Linked DNA regions of Homo sapiens: region 1 is linked to region 2. Evidence: fine-mapped expression QTL. Tissue or cell type: pituitary. Region 2 holds a variant in brackets; the other region holds the start of a gene. All regions are shown on one strand. Distances are from middle to middle.

Region 1 (8,000 bases), 560 kb before region 2:
CTCCCCTCTCCTTCTCTCCCTTCCCTTCCCCTTTTCCCCTCCTCTCCCCTCTCCTCTCCTTCCTTCCTTCCCTCCCCCCTTTCCCCTCCCCTCCCCTTCCCTTTCTTTCTTCTCTCTCTCTCCTTCTCTCTTTCCTTTCTTTCTTTTCCCTCCCTCCCCACCTTCCTTCTTTTCTCTTTTCTTTTCTTTCCTGCCTTATCTACTGCTCTTGTCTTCAGTGGACACCGGCATACCTCCTGGAACCCCCATGCTTCCCATCTTCTGGGCCTTTGTGCACTCTGTTTCCTCTGGAGGAGTGTCCTCCCCTCTCTGCACATCAAATCCTACCCAGCCTCCAATTTCAGCTTCCTGGGTCCCAGTAAACAGACATAATCTTCTTTCCTCGACTCCTAGTGCTCTTTCCCTGCACGTTGCCACCTTAAAGAGAAGAATCTATGTGCAATTCTCATCCCTCCTCTAGTTCACCGAAAGCAGGGACTGTATCTTACACATCACTTAACATCGTACCTAACACCTAGTTTGAATTCAATAAACATCTGCTGAATGAATGAATGGGAAAAGTGATCTAGGCTAGTGATCTGGGCAAAATCTAATTAAATGTTAGCCACTACAAATCCACACTGGGGCATGCCAAACCTGAGTGTCAACCAAGGCAAACAGCCTAGACCCTGCAGTTCTAAACAGAGAGCTGAGCTCAGCTGCCTGGTGAATTTGGGATAACTCAGACCTTAATCTGAGGAAAAGAGGTGGTGCAGTATGAAACCAATCTAAAAGTTGGGAAAGCCAAGGTATATGCTCAGTTCCTACACTAAGTGACTCTGTGACCTTGAATACGTCCCTTCCTTTTGCAGGGTCTCAATTTCATAACCCGTAAAATAGGTGTAATAGCAGTACCTAGCTCATAAGGTTGTTACGAGAATTACAGAAATTAAAAAACATAAAGCACTTAGAGCTATGCTGGTGTACTATAATTATTCAATACATTTTACAATTCTTATTGTCTGTAAGGTGATTAGGAGGCACTGGGTGACCCATTGTTTATTCTGAGAAAATACGTGATCTTGCCCTTATATGCACGTTCCTGTAATGCTCACTTTTCTGGATACCTGGAATAATGACAGTTTAAGGATTATCCAGTCTCCCAAATGATCAATAATGCAAAACTGGGGTTTTCTACATTTTGATTTTGATTGTTAGAAGAACTACATAGCTTCCTGCTTTGCAATTCGGACTGTACTCAGTCTGCTGAGTAGTTAATGCCGTGGACAGCCTCACTGTCAGAATGTAATCTCAAGCAGCGATGGACCATTCCAGAAATCAATCAGTAGGCTTTGAGTTGGTGCTCTTCAAAATGTGTGTGTGTTAGTCTTCAGTGCTTTGTACATATTCTGCATATAGTGAGCTCTTACACGTTTGCTGAAGAGATTTAGCAGTAACTTAACTGCAGCTACACACAGACTGTAGGCTTACTAGTTGCTTCTGGATCAACTAGGAAACCACTGTTCTGCCCAATTCTCACAATCATGGCTGCTCTAAAGGCTGTTCTTCCGAGTGTCAAGGCCCCGCTACCTGGCAACTCAGCCCTGCCCACTCATGGCACACAAGGAGACAAACAAACTACTTTTTTTCCTCAGAAGTGACTTTGGATTACAGACTACCCTAGCTCACCCCCACCCCATTTCTGCTTTCTTGGCTTCGATTTTCCATTAGGCATGACTAAGTGCCAGAGGTTCTGTCTGTCTGGGAAAATAGGAGTCACTGGAATTTTCTATCCTCTTCTCAATGTGCAGCCTCCCTGCTGCTTTGGAGATAGCAGTAAAGTGATGTCTTTCCTTTGGCGCATTCCATTACAATACTCCTTCTTCTCTTTTGCCCATAGACGCTAGTAATAAGTTTGGCCACAGAAGCATGTTACCTTCTCTTAAAAGTACTTGGTTTTTAGACTCTCAGCAGGGTTATTTCTGCTCACAAACACCCTGGGTTTTCCCCATGGGCACAGAGGCCTTCAGCCTCCTGGGTGAGCCACTAGGAAGAAGGCACCCATGCCAGGCCACTCCACGGGTAGGTGGATGTGTACGTGGTGCAGGCTAAACTCCTGCCCTTGATGATTCTGTGCTGCTCCTGTGAGCAAGGGAGCAGGAAAGAGGGGAAACGTAGGAGGTCAGAGGTGGCTTGGGCTGGGCTTTGGACCAGTAATCAGGGGCATAGGGTTCTAATCTTGATACTGTATGCCTTGCACAAATTCTTCTAGGAAATGAAAATGATGAACTGAAAGTCAACTCTATGCCAATCACTGTGCTTAAAGGTCTATATCGATTATTTCATTGAATGTCTATCACAATAGTTAATGCTTACCATATTTAGACCTGGCAGTACTAGATGATCTCTAAAGTTCCTTCCATGTTCCATGTTCTGTGACTGGCCCCCACTGTCACACTTAACTTCCCAGGATGCATTCCTACTTAGTCACCCAACTTATCTCTGCTGTTGGTTGTGGATTTTGCAGGACAGTGGAGTAGAGGTAACTGCCCCAGTGAGTTTTCTAAATTTTGGTTTTGATTTTTAGAAGAACTACGTAACTTCCTGCTTTGTAATTCTGAGTTGTACTCAGTCTTCTGAGTAGTTAATGCCATAGATAGCCTCATTGTCAGAATGGAATCTCAAGGAGTGACAGACCATTCCAGAAATCAATCAGTAGGCTTTGAGTTGGGGCTCTTCAAAATACGTGTGTGTGGTAGTCTCCAGTGCTTTGTACATACTCTGTATATAATGAGCTGGATGGTACCTGCTTCCCATTTTTGCTCACCTCTGTAAATCCTCTACTTTAATAAGGCATGAATCTAGTTCATTTTCACAGGTGGCCCTTGTGCTGAATGATCTGACAAAAGACAAGACAGAATCTTGTTTCTGCAGAAGCAAGGCCTCTGCTTGTCATTATGATATGCACACAATGGACAATCCTGATGGTTCTTTGATGCTTCCCTTTTTTCTAGAATTCATGCCTTAATGAGAAGTGATAGAAACAAGCGGCTTGGCCCTCCTGCCTTGGCTGGACTCCACATCACTCATGACAGCCCTGAGCAGCCCTGGCGGCACCTGTCATAAACTAACACACACATCTGAACAGTCAAGCCTAATTCCTAAGAAGCTGTTTTAACTTGACATCTGAAAATGTATTGCATCTAGAATTATTTTATTGGGTGTGTGTTCAGGGCATATGTGTGCACGTTCTGCAACTGAAGTGTTCTATAAATATCAGATACGAGCTGTACAAAAAGGCATCACGTACACGGTGTACTTAATTCCATTTAGTAATGTTTTCAATTTGTGTCTGACCTCCGGCAACAGAGATGGAAGTTTCTCAACATGAATAAAAAAGTATGCTCAGCTACCTTAAACAATTTTCACTTAAAATTCCAGAAATATATTAGAGCTTAGTGATTACCAGGTGGGTACTAGCCCAGTACTTTCAGAGGAAGGTACTGAAGTCCAGAAAGGTGACGTGTCTTTTCCATGATCACGAAGGAAATTAATAATGGTCCCTAGATGAGACCCAGGTCACTTGACTCCCAGGCCACTATCCTTTGCTTTTTCTTGACTTACTGTACGTTTCTTCCCCCAGCTGTTCAAAAGGAACTCTGATTCCATTAATAGCATATGTTCCTACTATGGTTTATCATAAAAATCCCAAACCAGCTCCTCTACCCTTTCCTTTCTAACTCTATAGGACACCTGTCTATTTTTCCAGGAAAGAGAATACGTGACCCTAACTCACAAGCAAGGAAGTTGCTCTCCTTGGTGATCCCAAACACTTCCCCAGTGGCTGGCGGGGTAATTGGAACCCAAGCTTGAACACTCGATTGTTCTTTTTTTTTTTTTTTTTTTGAGACAGGGTCTCATTCTGTCGCCTAGGCTGGAGTGCAGTGGCGCGATCTCGGCTCACTGCAAGCTCCGCCTCCCGGGTTCACGCCATTCTCCTGCCTCAGCCTCCCAAGTACCTGGGACTACAGGTGCCCACCACCACACTCGGCTAATTTTTTGTATTTTTAGTAGAGGCAGGGTTTCACCATGTTAGCCAGGATGGTCTTGATCTCCTGACCTTGTGATCCGCCTGCCTCGGCCTCCCAAAGTGCTGGGATTACAGGCGTGAGCCACCGCGCCCAGCCCACTCAATTGTTCTTGAAAGGGCACACCTGAGTTAATTTTCCTGACAAAGATGTGCTGACCTTCCAGTTACTCTTTTTTTCTTTATTTTTATTTTTGAGACGGGGTCTTGCTCTGTCACCCTGGCAGGAGTGCAGTGGCACGATCTTGGCTCACTGCAACCTCTGCCTCCCCGGTTCAAGTGATCCTCCTGCCTCAGTCTCCTAAGTAGCTGGGATTACAGACGCCCGCCATCATGCCTGGCTAATTTTTGTATTTTTAGTAGAGACAGGGTTTCACCATGTTTCCCAGGTTGGTCTTGAATTCCTGACCTCAGGTGATCCACCTGCCTCGGCCTCCCAAAGTGCTGGGATTACAGGTGTGAGCCACCACGCCCAGCCCAGTTACTCTTTCTGTGTGACTATCCTGATAAGCTGAGTTCAGTGCAGCTTCTTCTGGCTTGTGTGACTGAGGCCAGAACAAAAGCCCTAACTGTTTTCCACTGAGAAAGCAGGATAAACAGGGGGTGCAGTCTTTAAAACTGCTCTCAGAGAAGCTTCCAGTGGAACCAAAGGAATACAGATGGAGGGCCTGGGGAGAGATGGCCTGAGGGGACCTGCAGAAGGGATTTACCTGCTGCCCCTCCCCCAGGGGAGCCAGGAGACTGAGCTGGGCTGTAAACACTCCGTGCCTGGTGCAGCCTGGTCTGCACAGGCTGAGAGGATGGTGAGTGGCTTCCTCTGGGATGAGGGCTGTATTGGCAGTAATTGATGGCCAGGCTTTTCAATGGAGCTTATCATTTCACTGCAACAGATGTCAGGTTCTAATAAATAACACGTTCTCACTGACCTATGCAATTTGGAGAGGATGCCTGGATGTCAGGCAGAGCTGGATTCCTCCCCATCTCTGTTGCTCTCTCTTCTGTAAGGAAAAACAAACCAAATCCCTTTAAGATACTTTTCAAAAGGGTTCAAGGATCCAATAATTCCACGTTATTTATATGATTTGCTTTTCTCTTCACAGCTCTACTTCTAAACCCCATAAGGAAAAGGCCCAGGAGGGACGGGTGAGCTTGCTCGTGCGGAATGGAAGGCCTTGGTGACCTCAGTCCCCAATTCCTGTGTCGCTCACCAGCACTGACTTTATTGTCTTCTCGGGGGCTCTGATCACCCGAGCTATGTTGGCCTGGGCCTGGAAAACTCCCTCATCTCTCTTGTGGGGAGTTCAGCTGAGATGAGGTTGGTTCAGCTGGTTGTGCTGGTACCAAGAAGATACAACCACAGGGGATGACAGTCCATTAATGGGGTGGCCTTAAACTTTGGGAACTCTAGCCAAGTTACCGAGGTTAAGGGACTGTTTACTGGGGTACATATGATGGTATCAATATTGACTCTGCTTTTAATTTAAAAATCTCCTCTTTTTCTCTAGGGATGTTGCTGCTGATAGCTAAAAATGATCAAATTCTTACCATATGCCAGACCTTATGCTGGACAATTCACTGACATTATCCCACGTAGTAGGCAGAATTCTAACGTGACCCCCAAGATTCTCCACCTTCTGTGTAATCCCCAGGATTGTGAATGTGATGGATTTCATTCTGGTAAACAGGTTTTGTTATATGGCACAGATGACTTTAAGACAGGGAGGCTTTAAATCTGTGACTAGCAGAAGACATATGGAAGGCAGAGATTCAAAATATAAGAGGGATCTGACGCACCACTACTGGCTTGAAAATGGAGGGGACCACATGGCAGAGGACGCACGCAGCCTCTAGTTGCTGAGGGTGGTCTCCAGTTGACAGCGGCAAGGTAACAGGGGCCTCAGTCCTACAACCACAAGGAACTGAACTCTGCCAACATACTGAAAGAGCTTGAAGGAGGAGCATAAGCCTCAGGGGTGAGATCATAGACCCAGACAAAGCCTTGATTTTAGTTGCCTAAAACCCCGAACTGAGAACCCAGGCATCTTGAGTGGGACTCCTAACCCACAGAAACTGTGAGATTAATAATTAGTGGCGTTTTAAAAGGGTTAACTTATGATATTTTTAAAATTAGCAACACAGAAAATCATACACCCCATGTGATACCCATCATAACCCTCTCAAGTAGGCTTCACCATTTTATAGACAAGGAAACAAAGACCCAGGGAAATTAGGAATTTGCCCAAAGTCACATAGCCTGTGAGTGGCAGAGACAGGTTTAAACCCAGCTATGTCTTGACTTTATGGTCAGTGCTCTTCATTGCCTCATGCATTTCCTCTCTGTATGAGAAGAGAGCCTCAGACACATGGTGAAAAGAGTATGGAACTGTTTCTGTCTGCCTGGGTGTGGATGTGCAGAAGGGTCAGAGGACCTATGCTTTTGTTTTGGTTTTAAATGGTGAAAAGACATATACATAGAATCAACTAGCTGGATTCAGTTTAGATGATCCCAATATGCCTTCTTCTCTCCATCAGGCCTGATCAGGGTGTTGGCTTTGGCCACAGCAGTGTCACTGAGCTTCTTCACAGCCTGTTTGATCTGGTGCTTGTTGGCTTTGACATCCACAATGGACACAAGTTGTGTTGTTGTCTTCTATCTTCTTCATGGCTGACTCAGTGGTTGGGGGAACCTGATGATGAATTATTGGTCAAGCTTGTTTCTCCTGGGAGTGCTCTTCCAAGCATATTTCTGCTGCCTGCAGAGCCACACTGTCTTGGGCCACTGGCAGGTGGGTGATGTGTGGATTGGATCTTCTTTTTGTGGCTGTGGACACCTTTAAGCACTGCCTTCCTGGCCTTCAAAGCATTCGCTTTGGCTTCAGCTTTGGGAGGGGCAAGAACTTTTTTCACTTTTGGTGCCATAATGTGAAAATGAGGACCTATGTTGAGCCCTCACTCCTCTAGAAGCCAGCTGTGTGCCCTCGGCAAAGTCAATTAATCACTCTGAGCCTCAGTTTTTATAATCTGTATGAGGCCTACTAAGAATTTCTGCATTATAACCCTTGAAGGGCTGCAGCTGATGATCCCATAAAAGTGTGTGAGGGGCCACTGTGAATGAAGTCCACAGGGCAGACAGAGGCACCTGGATGTCATGTAGATATCATTTTCTTTTCTTGATGACTGCCAATTTCAATGTCCTCTGCCTATAGGCTGGATATGGTCACTCTGATGGCTTATTTGGAGGAAGTAATTTTAAATAGGTTTTTTTTTTAGAGGAAATGATTATTTATTACATTTATTGAAAAACTACAGAATAAGATGGAAGGTAATTTTTCTTTTTTTCTTGAATTCTTTAAAAGTTAGTTGACTATTAAAAGCCAAAGTAATAACAATGTATTGTGGAATTCATAAAATACGAAGACTGAAAGTGTGTGAATATGACAGCACAAAGATAAATAGAAGGTACACAGATAATTACACTGTTTATACAGGAAGCATTATAATATTAATTCACGGTAGGCTGTGATAAGTTAACGGTGTATTTTTAGTGTATAAATGACTAAAATATACAAAGAAATATAGCTAACACACCAACAGAAGAGAAAATGGTAAACTAAAAAATACTTTAATAAACTGAAAGAATACAGGAAGAAAAGGACAAAGGAATAAAAAAAAAAAACCCAAACCAAAAATATGAATAGAAAGACTGTAGGGCTTAAACCCAGTAAGCTTATTATTTATATTAAATGTATAAATAAATGAAATACTCCAATTAAGGCCAGGTGTGGTGGCTCATGCCTGTAAGCCCAGCACTTTGGGAGGCCAAGGCAGGTGGATCACTTGAGGTCAGGAGTTTGAGACCAGCCTGGCCAATATGGCAAAACCCCATCTCTACTAAAAATATAAAAAATAGCCAGGTGTGGTGGTGTGCGCCTAT
Region 2 (8,260 bases):
TGAATTTAGTATGACAAAGTTCTTTGCAACTTATGATGAAGGTATAGTTGTTCATTATTAAGCTAGTTTGAGTGCAATATTTAGCAATTTTCTTATTGTCAAGGACTTGATACGCCTTGTCTTTTTCCCCCTTATAGAATCTTTTTTTTTTTTTTTTTTTGGCTGGGTCTCACTCTGTTGCCCAGGCTGGAGTGCAGTGGTGCAATGATGGCTCACTGCATGCAGCCTCAATCTCCCTGGGCTCAGATGATCCTCCCACCTCAGCCTCCCAAGTAACCGGGACTACAGGCATGAAACACCACACCCAACTGTTGTTTTTTTTGTTTTTTTTTTTTTTTTGAGAGATAGGGTCTTACTATGTTGCCCAGGCTGGCCTTCAACTCCTAGCCTCAAGTGATCTGCCCACCTCGGCCTCCCAAACTGCTGGGATTACAAGAGTGAACCACTGCACCTGTCCCCGAATTTTTTTTTTTTAACTTAGAAGATTAAAAGAATTGTTGTGTTCTAGGCATCCAAATTCCTGGGAGATGGGAAAGTAGCCTAGAGTCCCATTTCCATTTGATGGATGGAGCCCTGAATAGAAATGGCATTCCCCAGAATAGAATGGCATATTTTGAGGCTTTGGCCCTACGGAGGAAGTTTCCAGATCTTCTGACACTCTCTGATCCTTCTGGCTGGATCCATTTCCTCCTGGAAGAGCACACAGAAAGTATGGTCTGGTGGGAGCACAGGCTCAGAACAACCATCCCACTCCTGGGTGCCCTCACTGCACACATTCCCAGCAGCCAAGGACATTCTCTTTGGCTTCAGGTTAAAGAGCAACACAAGTGGATAGTTGTGGGTAAATTCTAACACAAAGTATCAACCATTGGCTCTGGTGCTCTGAGAAAGAACCCCATTTAAATTATTAGGAGAGAGTCAAGAAGAGGAAGCTGAAACTCTGCAAAGAGCAGGGCCTGCAGCTGCAGCCCAAGTTGGCCCAGCTCTGTTGACCTTGGCTTTGTCTTTGAGGAACACACGCTTGTGTCTGCCTATTTCATCAGCTGTTCCCCGTCTGCCCTTCCCTTTCCCACCCTGGGAAGTGGTGAGGAGGGTTAAGTGACAGCCTGTGAGGCAACCACTCAAGCACAGGGGGAGTCTGAGGGAGGCTGTTTCACTCTTTCCAGCCAGGACCCACCCAACAGGCTCTCCTCAAATCGAAGTCCATGAAAGAAAAGTATTCATCTGCCCCAGGGTCTTCCCCACTGTCCTGACACTACATGGACTCTCTCCTATGTCCTCATGGCTATGTGTGGGGTGATGTGCAGCACCTCTGAACCTGTTTCGGCCAGGGCGGCCCCCAGAATCTCAGAATGTTAGAGTTGGAAGATCTCAGAGGGCATCTAAAGCAACATTCTCATTTTACACATGATAAAACTGAGGCCCAGAGAAGTAAAGTGACCTGCCGAAGGGCCCACAGCTAGACTGCATCAGCATGCTGAGACTACAGCCCGTGTCTCCTCACTCCTGCACAACAGAGAGCTAAAGGACCAGCATGTTCAGATGTGGCCACTCTTTGGGTAGAAGACAGCACCAGAGATGAGTGCTCAGTGTCTGTGAAGTCACAGGGGCTTGGCAATGGGAGGCTTAGGAGACTCTAAGGAGTTGAAATACATTTTGAACATGTGCAGAAGAGTCTTTCGATCCAAGTCTTGGAGGAAAGCAGGCCAATTTCAGGCTGAGATGGGACAGGTGCTGACTGTGGGGAGGGAGAGGGGCCCATGCTGGAGCAGTCCAGGAATCCTAATCCACGCCTGGGTGGTCCCCAGGCTTCCAAGCCCCCTGGGATCCTGGGAAGTTCCAAGACTGCTGAGGCAGGTCAGCAGGTTCCCGGTTGAACTCAATTACCAGGCCCACTTTGGGGTGCTCAGAATGGGTCAAGAAAGCAGCCATCAGCAGAAGGTGTTGACATGGGACTCCAGGGTACTAGGTTGAGACAATGTGTATTGATTTAAAAGGCACAGAAACCGTAACTGCACACAACTTTACACACATATTCTTATCAACATGTTGTTCCACTGATCATCTAAGGGGTGGTCAGCTTCCCTGGTCACTTGCAGCTGAGAAATGCAGCCTCGGTGACCTTCAACTGAGGAGGAGTCGACATTGGCTTCCGGTCTTCCCAGAGCCCTTGTTGTTTGTTTGTTTGTTTGTTTTGAGACGGAGTCTCGCTCTGTCACCCAGGCTGGAGTGCAATGGCGCGATCTCGGCTCACTGCAAGCTCCGCCTCCCGGGTTCACACCATTCTCCTGCCTCAGCCTCCCGAGTAGCTGGGACTACAGGCGCCCGCCACCATGCCCACCTAATTTTTTGTATTTTTAGTAGAGACGGGGTTTCACCGTTTTAGCCAGGATGGTCTCGATCTCATGACCTCATGATCTGCCCGTCTTGGCCTCCCAAAGTGCTGGGATTACAGGTGTGAGCCACTGGGCCTGGCCAAGCCCTTGTTTAAGAACCACCTTCTTTGGCTTTTCACCCCAGGGTTGCTGGGGACACCTGATGTCCTACATTATTAGGCTTTTCCTGGCTTCTGAAACCTTGTGCTGAAAGTCTCTCTGAGAGCGATACAGATTGATTAGACACTCGGATTGTTTGACACGTGTGGTTTTGCCAAAGGCAACACGTTCTTTGACCAACTTCTGAAACTCCCCAGTTCTCCTAGTCTCTCTGGACTTGAGTATCAGCCATGTTCTTATGTTGATGCCAAGCTCCTGGGTGATTAAAATTCTTCTAACCACCTTTCTGATTCAAGGCTGTACTCTGACAACACAATTGCTTTTTGGGGATTTTTGCAAACATCTCAAAAGGGCAAGAAACATTCTTCCTCCCTTTTAGCCCAATGTAGACCGGAGGTTTTTTCAGCCGTCAGCTGAATGCTGGGCCCCACCAGTGCCCAGTAGGTACAGTCCCATCCACTGTGAGGTGGGCTCCAGGGAGGGCCGTTGGGTCCATGTGAAGCCAGCAGGAGGGGCCATGTGAAGCCAGCGTCTGAGGGGCTCCCCATGAGGCCACCAAGCCCCTGTCAAACCTAGTAAGTCACCCTGACACCAACCCCACCCTTCCTCAGAAGAGCAGTGAATAAACAAGAGCATGTGAATTGGGCAACTCCAGGTGGGGGTGCAGGGAAAGTGCTCAGGCTTGAAGGGGGGATAGAGAGGGGCTGGTAGAGTCACAGTGGGGAAGCAGCTGAAGGAGACG[G/C]ATCGGTGAAGGAGCTCATGTGGAGGGGCCCCAGATAGTGAAGGAGGGTCCAAACCAACATTTTCTATTCTTTGCCCAGTAAAGTTTCATGAATCAACTCAAATGTTTGCTTGCTCTCACCTTCTGCCCCTAAGGAGGAAGTTGGGGGATAGCTGGTCCAAGGATTTGGACTTTGGGGCTCTCCATTTGTAAGTAAGGAAAAAGTCAAGATGAGCCATCATACTCTGTTTTCATTCCATCCTTGGCACAGACAACATATTACTCCAAAGGAGAGCTGAATAACAGAATTTAAAGGGAAATTAGAGATGAGAACATTTAGTCATCATCCTCATTTTACAGATGAGAAAACTGAGGCCCAGGGAGGTTAAACATTAAATAATGTGCTCCAAATCACTCAACCAATAATTGCAGAACTGGCAGGACTAGAACTCTGCCGCCTAATTCCCAGTTCATGCATTTTCTTGCCTTCTGCTGTGCCTGACAGGTTCCCAGTGGTGAAAGTCGGCCTTGGAGCGCCCTCCCATGGCTGTGGACAGCTACTGGAGCAGCTGTGGCACAGGCCAGTGTTAACTTGAGGATAGAATGACCTGCAGGGCTGGTTGAAACAGATTGCTGGGCCCCACCCTTGGAGTTTTGGGTTGTCTAACAAGTCCCCAGGGGACGCTGACCTACTGATTCAAAGACCACTTACTCAGAAACTCAGATGTAGATAAAAGATTTTGCAGCCAGAATACCTGGTTTCAGGTCCCAGCTCTGCCATCCAAGTGCTGATACCTTGAACATGGTACTTAATCTCTTAGCATCTCGATCTCTTTATTTTATGATGGCAACAATAACAACCACCCATAGGGTTAATGTGTAAAATAAATAAATCAGATGTAAAATACCTGAGAAGTGACATGCTGATGCTGTGTGAATATACAGATTCACAAATATGTGACCTTTGTCTGGAGAGATGCCACTGGAGGCCAGGGAATGTCCACAGAGACAAAAGCATTCTCTTAATGCTACTCAAAATTACAATAAATCCAGAAGAAATTGTGTTTATCCTGCCACAAATACTGGCTGAGGAATTACGAGGGCCTGGCACTGTGCTGTACACCACATTTGCAAAGGTGAATGACAGTCCCTGCCCTGGAGGAACAACTAGAAGGAAGATAAACATGTAAATTCTAATAATTACCCTAATCCCAGATGAGCCAGGGAAGGAACCCTGTGCCTAGAGCACAGAGCATCCCACCCTGTCTGAGAAGTCAAGCAAGGCTTTGAAAAAGAACCTGACTTTTGAGTAGGGTCTTGAAGGATGAATAGGAGTTCTTTAAGAAGAGAAGTGGTAGGGGGCACTCCAGGCAAAGGAAACAGCATATGCAAAGTAGTCACGGAAGCATGAAAATGCATAATATTTTCAAGGAAATCGCACGTGGTTCTATGTAACTGGAGCTCAGTGGGTCTGGGAAAAGGACTGGCAAAAAAGGCTAAGAAGTTTGGGCCATGCCGGGCACGCGGGTGGCTGAGGCAGGAGAATGCTGTGAACCTGGGAGGCGGAGCTTGCAGTGAGCCGAGATCGCGCCACTGCACTCCAGCCTGGGCGACAGAGCGAGACTCCATCTCAAAAAAAAAAAAAGAAGTTTCGGCCTGACTGTAACCTGGTGGGAAGCCATTGGAAGACACCCGACGAGGATTCCCTGAAAAAATTCTTAATGAGTCCCTAAGGCAAAGATTTCCAAGCCAAGCGCTTCACCACATACCCTCAGCGGCCCCAGTGCCTGAGAGCCTCCCCTGCCAGGAAGCCTAGCCCAGAAACGCCTCCCGAAACGGGTAGTGGCCCTGGGGAAGAAGCTTCCCTGGAAGGCACAAGCAGTAAACGGGCAGCCTCTTACCTCTTACCTTCATCAGATACTGGCGGGAGGCACCCTCCTGGCAGATTTCTTCATCCCCCTCTCCTTCTGTGGGTGTGGAGTCACTGGGAGAACAAAGGGATGTTATCTGTAGCTAATAAGTTATGGGAGGGGGAGGGAGCTGTAGGCGCCTGTGGGGGTGGGGAAATGAGTCCTGAGCAGCTCTGATGCAATCCAGAAAGAGGCAGGTGCAAGCCTGCACCTGGGAAGCAAACCCCCTGCCTCCCCAAAGTACACAGAGATTTGAAGCTGGAAGAGGCACCTCCAAGACTTGCCCGTGATCCCACAGCTAGCTGACGCCTGGCCCCCTCTCCCCACATCTGACTCCACGATAAAAGGTCTCAGTCTTGGAAAAACTGGCGGTTGCTGTGTTCATTGACCTCACTCCCTCTTCCTGAGTCTCTCCTGCAGCCTTCCCTTCCCAGCCCAGTCCCTGACCCTCTTTCAGACTCAGCCTTTGGTTTCCAAACAGGTATAGAATGTGGTGTGCAAAAAATGGCCTCCGCTATTTTTGAAAAAAGCAATGGCAAGAAAAAAAGAGCAAACTGCTATTCTGAGCCACATGGGCTTGGGGTTTTGATTCCAATTTCTTTGTCTCCGGTGGAGGTGGAAGCAACTTGCTCTTGTGGGAATAATCCCTTTTGTTTTTAGGAAAAGATTTTAATAGGTCTTTGGGTTATGCAAGGATAAAACGTGAACCTTTTCTGGAAAGGAGACAGTGCAATGCAGGACAACGTGAGGCCACAGGCTCCTCTTAGTCACTGTAAAATGTGGCTTTCTTTGAGAGAGAATGGCATCTCTGCAGAGGTTATGGGGAGTTTTGTTAAAGCTGTGCTTGGAGAACTTAAGAGAGGGGCTTGGGCTGGGCATGGTGGCTCACACCTATAATCCCAACAATTTGGAAGGCCGAGACGGGCGGATCGCTTGAGGTCAGGAGTTCGAGACCAGCCTGGCCAACATGGTGAAACCCTGTCTCTACTAAAAATACAAAAAAATTAGCTGAGTGTGGTGGCAGGAGCCTGTAATCCTAGCTACTCGGGAGACTGAGGCAGAAGAATCGCTTTAACCCAGGAGGTGGAGATAGCAGTGAGCTGAGATGGCGCCACTGCACTCCAGCCTGGGTGACAGAGTAAGACTTCATCTCAAAAAAAAAAAAAAAAAAAAAAAGAGAGGGGTCTGTTTCTGCAGTGGGCACCAGCAGGATTGAGCTGGTGACTGGCAGGGAGGACACCCAGGATGTGTGTGAATTCTCAGGAGTCCTTGCAAACAAGGGGAGAGGAAACCCAGGCAGGGCCGAGCTGTGCTGTTCCCGTTTGGTGACTGAAGGGACTGTGAGTGTGAAGGCAGGTGACAGGAGGATGGGTGGGGGTTGTGTCCTATTCCTCTCTCTGGCAGGGCTACCAAGGGCATCCACGCCAGTTCAACAACCCACTGAGCTCTTCCTAAAAGGACTACAAAGTCAGGTCAAAGAGGCACGGCCACCCCTGGTCCCCCTGCCACAGCCGGCCTGGAGTCAGAGCCCATCCTGAGAACAGAGCCCCACGCATCTTTCCACCCTCTGTGCTAAAAGGAGGACTGAGGTCTAACGGGGCGCCAGTGTAACCTCTTAGTTCCTAAATGTTTTACTTTGAAATGTCTCTTTTTGCTAACTACCTGACTTTGAAAAGGTAAAATGCTTTCTTTTGAAAAAGTTTTTATAGGAAACTGGATTAACCTGGGATTCAGGATGCAGGTCCCGCCAGGTTTCAGGAGTTGGGTTTAAAACTGGAACCAAGGGAAGGAATAAATGGGCATTTGGGGCTTAAAGCACTTCTGTTCTATATTAATGTAAAAATTACATGAATCTATTATTTATATAAAATTATAAACATAAACATATATTATGGTACATATGTATATTGTTTTATAATGTATTATAACTTTTTTTTTTGAGACTAAGTTTTGCTCTTATTGCCCAGGCTGGAGTGCAATGGCGCCATCTTCGTTCACTGCAACCTCCGCCTCCCGGATTCAAGTGATTCTCCTGCCTCAGCCTCCCAAGTAGCTGGGATTACAGGCATGCGCCACCACGCCTGGCTAATTTTGTATTTTTAGTAGAGATGGGGTTTCACTATGTTGGTCAGGCTGGTCTCGAACTCCTGACCTCAGGTGATCCACCCACCTCGGCCTCCCAAAGTGCTGGGATTACAGGCGTGAGCCACAGCGCCCAGCCTAAAATAGTTTTAAAATAATAATTTATAACATCAAAATCCATTTTGGGCAGTGGCTCATGCCTGTAATCCCAGCACCCTGGGAGGCCAAAGTGGGTGGATCACGTGAGGCCAGGAGTTCGAGACCAGACTAGCTAATGTGGTGAAACCCCGTCTCTACTAAAAATGCAAAATTTAGCCAGGAGTGGTGGCACACACTTGTAATCCCCACTACCTGGGAGGCTGAGGCAGGAGAATCACTTGAACCTGGGAGGTGGAGGCTGCAGTGACCTGAGATCGCACCACTTCACTCCAGCCTGGGTAACAGAGTGAGAGTCTGTATCAAAAAAAAAAAAAAAAAAAAAAAAAATCTGCCAGGGCTTGGTGGCTCATGCCTGTAATCCCAGCACTTTGGGAGGCTTAGGCAGGTGGATCACTTGAGGCTAGGAGTTAGAGACCAGCCTGGCCAACATGGCAAAACCCCATCTCTATTAAAAACACAAAAAAAATAGCCAAGTGTGGAGGTGCACACCTGTAATCCCAGCTACTCCGGAGGCTGAGGCATGAGAATCACTTGAACCTGGGAGGCAGAGGCTGCAGTGAGCTGAGATCACACCACTGTACTCCAGCCTGGGTGACAGAATGAGACTCTGTCTCAGAAAAATAAAAGAAAGAAAAAAATATATTTTAATATAAATATAATAAATTTGTAGAAAATATAAATAATATGTAAATGTACAAAAACCATAAATGTCATCATTATCCCACCACCAAAAATTCATTGATGTCAATATTTTAAGATACTTCTTTCTGATTTTACTCAATGCATATAAACAAACAGGCAAACAAACAAATAATCTAATATACTGAACATCCACCTACAGTTATTCTACAATCCTGACAGAGAAAGAAAATGCTTCTTTTCCAAGAGTTCTA

The links. PIP is the estimated chance that this variant, and not a neighbour inherited with it, causes the effect.
Region 1: BABAM2-AS2 starts here. The variant in region 2 is fine-mapped to the expression of BABAM2-AS2 in pituitary (GTEx, PIP above 0.99).

Annotation. Positions count from the first base shown.
Region 1 is chr2:28,307,146-28,315,145 of GRCh38, reverse strand. It overlaps BABAM2-AS2 (BABAM2 antisense RNA 2), which reads left to right and starts at 4,687. Exons shown (of 3, transcript NR_038319.1): 1 at 4,687-4,869; 2 at 5,167-5,209; 3 at 5,572-7,455. The region is part of intron 11 of BABAM2 (BRISC and BRCA1 A complex member 2); the gene reads right to left. It also overlaps the pseudogene RPL23AP34. RefSeq lists an enhancer at 4,784-5,983.
Region 2 is chr2:27,749,812-27,758,071 of GRCh38, reverse strand. No RefSeq gene overlaps it. Among named protein-coding and RNA genes, the nearest start is that of MRPL33, 18 kb to the left of the region's middle. RefSeq lists an enhancer at 4,834-5,452. The variant G/C (reference allele first, on the strand shown) is at 3,238.